2 linked regions of the Homo sapiens genome follow. The protein of the gene in region 2 purifies or fractionates together with the protein of the main gene of each other region. This does not show direct contact. Each region holds a gene or a part of one and is shown on either strand. Other genes may lie near its edges.

Region 1 (5,545 bases), on a different chromosome or scaffold from region 2:
TTTTATTTCTTATTGCCTGTAAGCTTCTTTCTTTGTTTTTGTTAATTTGTTTAAGTAAGCATGTCTTTTTTACATTTATGTAAATGTTAAAATACTTTATGATCAATATTAGGAGTTTCTTGTTTAAATTCTGAAATAAAATTTTACTTCAAATTATTGTAAGATATGTATTTTTACACATTTCTTTTAAATGCATAAGTAAGGCTGGGTGTGGTAGCTCATGCCTGTAATCGTAGCACTTTGGGAGGCTAAGGCAGGAGGATCACTTGAGCCCAGGAAATTGAGACCAGCCAAGGCAACATAGTGGGACCCTGTCTCCACAAAAAAAAAAAAAAAAAGGGCATGGGGGTGTGCACCTGTAGTCCCAGCTACTGGGGAAGCTGAGGTGGGAGGATCACATGATCCAGGGAGGTTGAGAGTGAGGCATGATCGCACCACTGCACTCCAACCTGAGTGGCAGAGTGAGACCCTGTCTCAAAAATAAATAAATAAATAAAATAAGTGCATCTGTATACATTTCTTTTGTTTTCAGAGAATCCTTGATACGAACTGCATTCCAGTGTCTTCAGTTGGTTGTGACAGATTTTCTACCAACAATGCCTTGTACTTGCCTGCAAATAGTTGTAGATGTTGCAGGTAGCTTTGGCCTCCATAACCAAGAACTCAATATTAGTTTAACTTCAATAGGTTTATTGGTAAGTATCATTGTCCTTAGAATATAATATAATTTAGAAATCATTGTTATTCAGTTGGGAGTGAATGCTAAGCAAATATACTTTTAGCTCTTTGCAAATTGTTTATATGGCTTTTAAATTTCAAACTTACGTCTGGGTGAAGGATTAAATAACATCACTTAAATATTAATAACAAAATGTTTGAAATAATTTTCATACATTGAGCTGAAGTTTGGGTTTTACAGGGTTTGTCATGAAAGGGTTTAGTAAACAATAGTATATACAAGGGAAATCTTCAGTTGACTTTTATGTGAACCAATTACATTAGCCCCTGACAAGAAAATCAGCTTGTACTTTGAAGCCTTGAAGCCAAGCATTGACTTTTTATCTTTAGCCATGAAAGTCCTACATGACATCTTCAAGTACAAGGCTGTTTCAGGCTGGGCATGGTAGCTGATGCCTGTAATCCCAGCACTTTGGGAGGCTGAGGTGGGAGGATTGCTGAGGCCAGGAGTTTGAGACCAGGCTGGGCAATAAAATGAGACTCCCATCTCTACTAAAAATTAGCTGTGTATGGTGGTGCACACCTGTAGTCTCAGCTACATGGGAGGCTGGGATGGGAGGATTGCTTGAGCCCAGGAATTGGAGGCTGCAGTGAGCTATGATCACAGCACTGCACTCCAGCCTTGGCAACAGACCCAGACCTTGTCTCTGTAAAAAAAAATGATAATAATAAAAAGGCTGTTTTGTCTACATTGAAAATCTGTTGGTCAGTGTAGCCACCTTCATCGGTGATCTTAGCTAGATCTGGATAACTTGCTACAGGTTCTACATCAGCACTTGCTGCTTCACCTTGTACTTGTAGGTTATGGTGATAACGTCTTTTCTTAAACCTCATGAACTAGCCCCTGCTAGCTTCAGACTTTTCTTCTGCAGCTTCCTCACCTTGCTCAGCTTTTATAGAATTGAGGAGAATTAGGGTCTTTCTCTGGATTAGGCGTTGGCTTAAGGGAATCTTGTAGCTGGTTTGACCTTCTATCCAGACAGCTGAAAGTTTGTTGATACCATCAATAAGCCTGCTGTACTTTCTTCTTTCTTTCTTTTTTTTTTTTTTTTTTTTTTTTTCTGAGACGGAGTCTTGCGCTTGTTACCCAGGCTGAAGTGCAGTGGCATGATCTTGGCTCACTGCAACCTCTGCCTCCTGGGTTCAAGTGATTCTCCTGCCTCAGCCTCCCATGTAGCTGGAATTATAGGCGCCCGCCATGATGTACTTTCTTATAGTTTGTTTGTTCTTTGGAGTAGCACTTTTCGTTTCCTTCAAGAACTTATCCTGTGCATTCACAACTTGGCTCACTGGCACAAGAGGCCCAGGTTTTGGCCTGTCTTGATTTTCGACATGCCTTCCTCACTAAGCTTAATTATTTCTAGCTTTTGATTGAAAGTGAGACAAATGCGACTCTTCCTTTTACTTGAACACTTACAGGTCATTGTAGGGTTATTAATTGGCCTAATTTCACTGTTGTTGTATCTCAAGAAATAGGGAGGCCTGAGAAGAAGTAAAAAGATGAGGAAACAACCTGACGATGAAACAGTCAGAAAACTCACATTAAGTTTGCCATCTTACATAGGTGCGGCTCATGCACCCCAAAATAGTTGCAATAGTCACATCAAAGATCACGGATCATAGATCACCATAACAGACATAGTAATAATTAAAAAGTTTGAAATATTACAAGTATTACTAAAATGTGGCACAGAGACACAAAGTGATCACATGCTGCTGGAAAAAAACGGTACCAACAGACTTGTTCAATGCAGGGTTGCCACAAACCTTTATAAATTGCAATTTATAAAAATTACAATTATCTGTGAAGCACAACAAAGAGAAGTGCAATAAAACAAGGCATCTCTGTAATGAAATCTTAGAGAATTGTTAACATTACATGAAATAAACATGCACAGAATTGTTTTCAACATATATTTTAAGGCAATTATTTAGAATCTTTTAAATGTATATTAAAACTCAGAAGTTTTATAAATTTGAACTTTAAATTTTCCTCACAAGCTAGATAAGTTACTACATTCATCTCTTCCTACGTTCAGCTCTTAATATTTGTGGCTTCTGCATCTGTAGATTCAACCAACTATAAATAGAAAATTTTTTTTTAAAACAAGATAGTTGTATCTGTACTGAACATGTACAGGCTTTCTTGTCAATATTACCTAAATACAGTATAACTAGTTACATAGCATTTACCTTATGTTAGGTATTAAAAGTTACCTAGTATTATTCAAAGTATACAGGAGGATGTGTGTAGATTATATTCAAATACTACACCATTTTATATAACAGACTTGAGGATTTGTGGATTTGGGTATGCAGTGGGAGGTCCTGAAACCAATCCCCCACGGATACCGAGGGACAACTGTATTTTACTATTACTATTATTTTTCCCATTTTTACATGGGAAAAAATGTAAGCATGTTGCATATATGATTGCAAGTGGGTGGCTAGTGCAACATTGCTTAAATTACTGCTGGATAGCACCTCCTTTATTTTACATTTATGTTCACAGTACTGGATTCTCTACATTTTAACCATTGGCATAATTATCATTAATATAAGATATGTTTGGAAACAGTAATTGCTCGTGTATGAAATTACAAACTTATTAAACAATATTAAGGAATTGTTAACATTGTTAGGGTGATAATGATATTATAGTTTTTTTTTATAGTTAACAGTTGTTATATTTAGGTGGTAGATACATCAATATGTTCAAGTTCCTTATACTATTCTTGGTTTTTTGTATGTTCTTGACATTTTTTATAATAAAAAAGTAAAAAAAAAAAAGTTAGCTCAAGATTGTTTCCCCACTTTCTCCTGAAATAATGTAGAGACACTGACAGAAGAAGAGATGTTTTCATTGAATCTATTCTACTAGGAAAGAGATTTTTGAAGTAATGTTTTTAAAGTTTTACTCTGAAAGGTAAAACAGCCACATGTTGCATATTTATGTGTTTAAAACAAAACCTTGGATGAACTAATATTTTTCTACTTTGCTTTTTAGTGGAATATTTCAGATTATTTTTTCCAAAGAGGGGAAACTATTGAAAAAGAACTAAATAAGGAAGAGGCAGCACAGCAAAAGCAGGCAGAAGAGAAAGGAGTTGTTTTAAATCGGCCATTCCACCCTGCACCGCCATTTGATTGCTTGTGGTTATGTCTTTATGCAAAATTGGGTGAACTATGTGTGGATCCCCGTCCTGCTGTCAGGAAGAGTGCAGGGCAAACTCTGTTTTCTACAATTGGTGCGCATGGAACTTTATTACAGCATTCAACCTGGCACACTGTTATCTGGAAGGTATTGTAAAATAGATTGGACTATCAGCTTTTAATGAGTCATGCTTATATATTAATACTTTTTCAGTTAAACTTATTTCTTTTAATTTTTAAAGAATTTCCATGCATTTGTGTATTTGACAAAACAGGAAATAACTGTGTCATATTGTAAATTGTACCTCATAAAGAGCAAATTAAATATTAACAGCCTTATCTCTGTTTCTGTCTTCATCTCTTATTATTATATCTCTCGTGATTTCTGCCTTTGCCTTTCTGTCTCCTTTTTTTCCCCCAGTTTTCCCAAATGGTAAAAACCAGGAGTTACTAAACAACAAAGGGTAATCAATCCCTTACCATAGAGTAGAAAGCTTTTGGGGTTTTTGTTTGTTTTACTTTTGAGGTCTACTTATAGATATGTAATTTAAATATAATCAAAAGAGAATTTTATTAACAGATGAATATCAATAGCAATGAAGTTTATTTGTAGACTCACCAAACAAAAGTAACCTCCAAATGGTATATTGTACATGTAATGTTTATTCATTAAATTACAATTTCATTTTTTTCTTCTTTTGAAACTTTCTAATAAAATCAGCAGTTTATTAGTGATCATTCCCTCTTTGCTAAAAGTCTCATCTTTTTTGTTCCATCTGTTCCATTATAATAAAATTCTGTTTATAATCCTTTCACTTGCTTTTGTGAGTTTTTCAAATTAATAGACCCCAAAATGTCTTCTTAAAAAATTAATGGGCTGGGCATGGTGACTGACACCTGTAATCCCAGTACTTTAGGAGGCTGAGGCAGCAGGATCACCTGAGGTCAGGGGTTCAAGACCAACCTGGCCAATATGGTGAAACCCCATATCTATTATAGTAAAAGCCCTCTTTCCTTCTGTCTTGTATTTCAGTTCCATCCCATAGTTCCTCCTCAGATCACAAACATGCTTAATTCTCCCATACAGTTTGTTTTTAATCTAATACTTTTCTGATTCTAATTTTCCTTTCAAGCAACTTCATTTTTTATCTTCTTGCTGCCTAATTCTTAATGATTTTTTTCTCACACACCTTGCATTGTCTTATTTTCTGTAATTGATTTCCAGACTATTCTACTTCAGTCTCTTAAACATTAGAGAATAACAGAATCACCTTAAAGACTTGTTAAAGCACAGATTTTTGAGCCACTATTGTCAGCCCTCCCTGAACTTGAGTTTCTGATTATTTTGGCCTGGAGTGAGTCCTGAGAATTTGAATTTCTATCAAGTTCCTGGGTGAAGCTTGATGCTGCTGGTTAGTTCAGAGACCACACTTTGAGAAACACAGAAATTATTCATAGGCTACAGTTGGTCTTTTTTTGTGAGTGAAAGATAGGGTCTTGCTCTGTCACCCAGGCTTGAGTGCAGCGGCCTGATCGTAGCACACTACAGCCTTGACCTGCCAGGCTCAAGCGATCCTCCCACCTCAGCCTCTTGAGTAGCTAGGACTGTAGGCTCACACTACCAAGCCCAGCTAATTTTTAAAATTTTTTTTGT
Region 2 (4,701 bases):
AAGAAGACATAGAAGGAGAAGAAGATGGGCTCGGTTCCATGGAAGTGGGGCTGCTTCAGATGGAAGTCGTCAATGACATCAGGCAGCATGGACCTGCGCAGAGTAGTGACAGCCATGAGGACTGACCCACCTAACGGGCCTCTGTGTTAATGAGAAGAGGTGGCCCTCTGGAAGCTTGCAGTACCATGGGTACACAGCTCAGTGAGGATATGGGACCTTCACATGAATAAGAAAAGGCCTCTTGCTCTAAGAGGAAGTAACCCTGCCTGGAGGTGCTCAGCGTGGCAAGTGGAGCCCAGGCCAGATTACAGCCCCCATTTTTCACTCTGACTAGGTGTTCTTGCAAAGCTCACTACCTGTACAACTGTACAGGACAGACCTCCCCCACTCCTAACCTGGACCCACAGAATGGCCTGTGGGAGAACACTGCATAGAACTCTCCCTAAGGAGCTTCAAAACTGGGGACTAGGGGCTGGAGATACCCGAGGAGGGGGGCCTGTATATACCTACCAGGGTAGTAAGAAGGCAGCTGCCACACTGATGCCAGCTGCCACAGCTACCGCATATGTAATGATGAGGTTACTCTCCATGAGGGCCACCAAGATGAGAAATGGCACTGCTGACTAGGGAAGGGGGTGCAGGAAGATGAATCAGCTGGGAGGTTCCCACCAGACATCCCAACTCAACCCAGGCTCTGCTCTTCAACCCCACTCACTGAGATCCCAACATATACAGCTGTCTTCTTGCCAAACCGGGTCAAGAACCACTGCCAGATGGGAATGGTTAAAGTGGCCGAGAGCTGTGGATGGACAAAGGGGGTTAAAGGGAGGTGCTTTAGAGCCACAGAGCCCCTCCTGCCCTTCCCAGAACCCCAAAGTGGCTCCCAGCCCTGCCCAAGAGCAGCCAGATGACATCATGTGGGCAGCAACGAAGATGACAGGCACCTTTGACGGCTCCCCAGGGGAGCTCAGAGCTGGTCCAGGCCCACCTTGTCTGCTGCCCTCTCAAACCTCTGAGCCAAGTTCCTGGTGTCCTCGCCCTTGCTTTTGCTGTGCTCACTACTCAAACATCTAACCTCAAACTCTTTCTTTCACAGTCCTACCTTCGCAAGGTCCAACCAAATACCCTGAGAAGCCTCCCTCATCCTTTCATGACCTTGGGCCAGCCTGAGAAACATCCTCTGCCTATTCCAAGAACCATTCCACAGCCTATGTCACCTCAGCCCAGGCTGCCCGCCCCTGCTCAGGTCCCACTCACCATGATGGCCAGGAGTAGATTCTGGAATTCATTGCGGAAGCCCAAGGTGTAGGTGCAAAACAAGACAAAGTTCCCCTCCACCAGCTGGGCATGGAGCAAGGTAGGGAAGGAAATGCAAGGAAGGAGGTGATGTTGGGGCTGAGCCTCCCCAAGACATCCCCCAAGCCCCAGAGACCTCTGCTCACCCCGCTCCCATTACACCTCCTTCTCAGGCTGAGCATGTCAGAACCCACTCACCATGAAAGCCAAGGAGGTGAAGAGGAAGCCAGTAATAAGTTTGATGTATGGGCCGTGGCTCATGACCAGCCGTAGGCCCCGGAAGTAGGCGATTGGCTCAGACTGCTGGGCTTCATAGGGTTCTGGGGGCCAGAGCGGACAGTGAGGAAGGAGCAGAGACCCCTCCCAAAGCCTGAGGGCCAGGCAGAAAGATACAGCTGTCCATGCTGAGGCCTGCACCCCTTCCCAGGCACCCCCTTACCTCTCTGCTCCCGCACGCCCAGGATCAGGATGACAGCACAGATTATATAGATACAGACAATGACCCCCGCTGCCAGCAGGTATGCCTTTTGCTATAAGGAGGTGAAGGCGACATACAAGGATGGTCAGTTTGAGCTCATCCCAGCACCCCAGTTCCAGCAGCCCCACTCAATGATCTTGGGCCAGTCCCCTCCCCTCTGGGAGCGTACTGTCTCCATGTGTGAAATGGGAGGATCATCCTGGGCCTGCTGTTGCTTCCCAAGGCTGGACAGTTAAGATTCACAACATGCTCAGAAACCAGGCTGGTTGAGTGCAGCCCTCACACCTGTAATCCCAGGAGTTTGAAACCAGCCTGGGCAACTTGGCAAGACCCCGTCTCTACAAATAATAATAAAAGGAAAAAAACAGAAACCAGGCTGCAGAGTCTGACAGCCCAGAATTCAAATCTTCCCAAATCTCTGCAATTCACTAACTTTATGACTCTGGGCAACTTATTCAGCCTCTCTAAGCTTCAGTTTCTTTTTCTGCAAAGTAGGTATATTGGGTGCATTAATTGTTATGTATATCAAATGCCCAACATTTATTTAATAAACACTAGCTGTTACTATCTTTAGGATGACTACAAACCACCTCACTGTTCCTTATCTCCCCAAATCCCTGCCCTGCCCAGGGCCTCACCGTTTCCCTGTGTGAGGTGGTGCCATGTGTATGGTTGGCACTTTGTGAAGCTACTGTAGAGCTATTGAGGTCCTGGAAACAAGGCGTGTCTGCTTGGCCCACGATTTGTCCCTGGATCGCCGTGCCCAGCACTGTGCCCAGCACTTCCACAGTCATCCCTGGCAGGAGAAAAGGAGGTGTTTTGGAGGGGCCTCATGGATTGTGGGCCCAGGGAGGAAGGTCAAATGGGTGGGAGCCCAGCGGTAGCTCCAGGCAGGGTGGGTAGAGGTAGTGGGGTAGGTGACACCTTGGTTTGAACGCATATGCACCTCTCCAGGTCTCATCTGAGCAATAAGGGGATTGAGTTATTTTTAAGATGGTTTCACACCCACACTCTAGAGCAGAGCAAAGAGCTGGACCCGCAAGGGAAGAAGTATGGCTGGAGGGTCCCTGGAGGGTGGGGTCAGGTGGGCTGGGGAGACTCACGATAGGCGGTGGCAGAATCCCGCTCAGTCTGCTCGGTGCTGATGAACATGGTGAGAGCCGAGTAGGGAACATGGAAACACTGGCATAGAAGACAGGTCATTGGCTGGTCAGGCGGGTGGACACACTGATGTAGCTTCCAGTACCAACCCTGGGGGCCCCAAGGACCGCCCTCCTCCCGGCCCCTAGAGACACCCAAGGGAGGTACCCACACTCACCGTGACCATTGTTTCAAAGAGGCAATAGAAAAGCAGGTACCAATAGGTCTGGCCGTGTGGGAAGTCGGGCACGAACCAGATGAGGAAGTAGGCAATGACGGCCAGGGGCGTGGAGAAGATGATCCTGAGGAAGAGGAGGGTGTGAGTGGAGGCTGGAGGCTGGAGCCCAGGACCAGGCCCAGCCCAGTCTGCTGTGCCTCACAGGGTCCCCACAGGGAAGGAAGCTAAGCTCTTCCTTCCTTCCCCATACTCCTGCCAAATCCACCCATCCTGGGCCTCTGGGAAGAGGCTGATGACCAAGCCCGGAATGGCAGATGGGAACTGGGACCCCAGACTGAAATCCTAGGCATGGAGTGTGAGGTCAGAGCCTGAGTCTAGTCCAGAGGCAGCAGCCTCTAATGGGCTGAGAGTTAGGACAGGAGTCCAAGACCTCAGGTGCCTGGGCAAGGAGGCAAAGAGAAGGAGCAGCCCCAACTCCCGTGTTCTCACACGGATAGTCATCAACCGCACACACACACCCCATTCACACACACACCCCATTCACACACACACCTCATTCACACACACACACACCCCATTCACACACACCTCATTCACACACACATCATTCACACACACACACCCCATTCACACACACCCCCATTCACATACACACTTCACACACCCCATTCACACACACACACACACCCATTCACACACAGGGAAGCTGGCATGATGGGGAGAGGCCAGCTCCAAGTGAAGGAGTTGAAGGCCCAGGTGGGCAAATGTCCGCCTTCCCCATGTGAGTTCCACACCATCAAAAGGGGTTAGACCTCAGGATGGACTAACTTCATGGCATCAGTATAGCAAGGCAGCACAGGCCATGGTAAAGAGAAAGGCCTTTGAGCCACTCTTCAGGGATTCCATTCTAGCTCCACCAACTAACTATAAAACTTAGTCTTGGGAAGTTATTTAAATTATCTGAAGCTCGTTTCCTCATTTCCTCATAAGTTCCAGCTATGGGCTGGGCGCTATTCTAATTACTTAGGATAACTAGAGAACAGATAAAAAATCATTGCCCTTGTGGAACTTACATACTAGTTGGCAAACAGAAAAGTTGACATAATTTAAAAGTTATATATACCATTCAACCTTCATAAGGAATAAAATTCTGACACATGCTACAACATAGATGAACCTTGTAGACATTAAGCCAAGGAAAATCAGCAAGACACAAAAAGATAAATATTGCATAATTTCGCTTTGGAAGGATGTAATGGATGGATGGTGGTGATGGTGGCGACAAAGTGAATGTACTTAGGCTAGGCGCAGTGGCTCATGCCTGTAATCCCAGCACTTTGGGAGACTGAGTCAAGTGGATCACCTGAGGTCAGGAGTTCAAGACCAGCCTGCCCAACATGGCGAAACCTCCGTCTCTACTAAAAATACAAAAATTAACCAGGCATGGTGGCGCACACCTGTAGTCCCAGCTCCTCGGGAGGCTGAAGCGGGAGAATCACTTGAACCCGGGAGGCAGAGGTTGCAGTGAGCCGAGATCGCACCACTGCACTCCAGCCTGGTGACGGAGTGAGGCCCTGTCTCAAACAAACAAACAAACTCCTTGATTATT

What was found. Proteins that work in one complex are often made in the same cells at the same time.
Region 1: the proteins of MFSD2A (region 2) and MON2 purify together in Homo sapiens (affinity purification with mass spectrometry; one large-scale study listed by BioGRID and IntAct). This does not show direct contact.

The regions. Positions count from the first base shown.
Region 1 is NC_000012.12:62,549,136-62,554,680, forward strand, and holds part of MON2 (protein MON2 homolog), read left to right. Parts: intron 1-532; coding exon 533-695; intron 696-3,745; coding exon 3,746-4,039; intron 4,040-5,545. UniProt on the Homo sapiens protein: Plays a role in regulating membrane trafficking of cargo proteins. Together with ATP9A and DOP1B, regulates SNX3 retromer-mediated endosomal sorting of WLS away from lysosomal degradation.
Region 2 is NC_000001.11:39,963,726-39,968,426, reverse strand, and holds part of MFSD2A (sodium-dependent lysophosphatidylcholine symporter 1), read right to left. Parts: intron 3,217-4,701; coding exon 3,093-3,216; intron 2,957-3,092; coding exon 2,878-2,956; intron 2,571-2,877; coding exon 2,413-2,570; intron 1,827-2,412; coding exon 1,736-1,826; intron 1,617-1,735; coding exon 1,495-1,616; intron 1,342-1,494; coding exon 1,258-1,341; intron 800-1,257; coding exon 716-799; intron 624-715; coding exon 511-623; intron 94-510; coding exon 1-93. UniProt on the Homo sapiens protein: Sodium-dependent lysophosphatidylcholine (LPC) symporter, which plays an essential role for blood-brain barrier formation and function. Specifically expressed in endothelium of the blood-brain barrier of micro-vessels and transports LPC into the brain.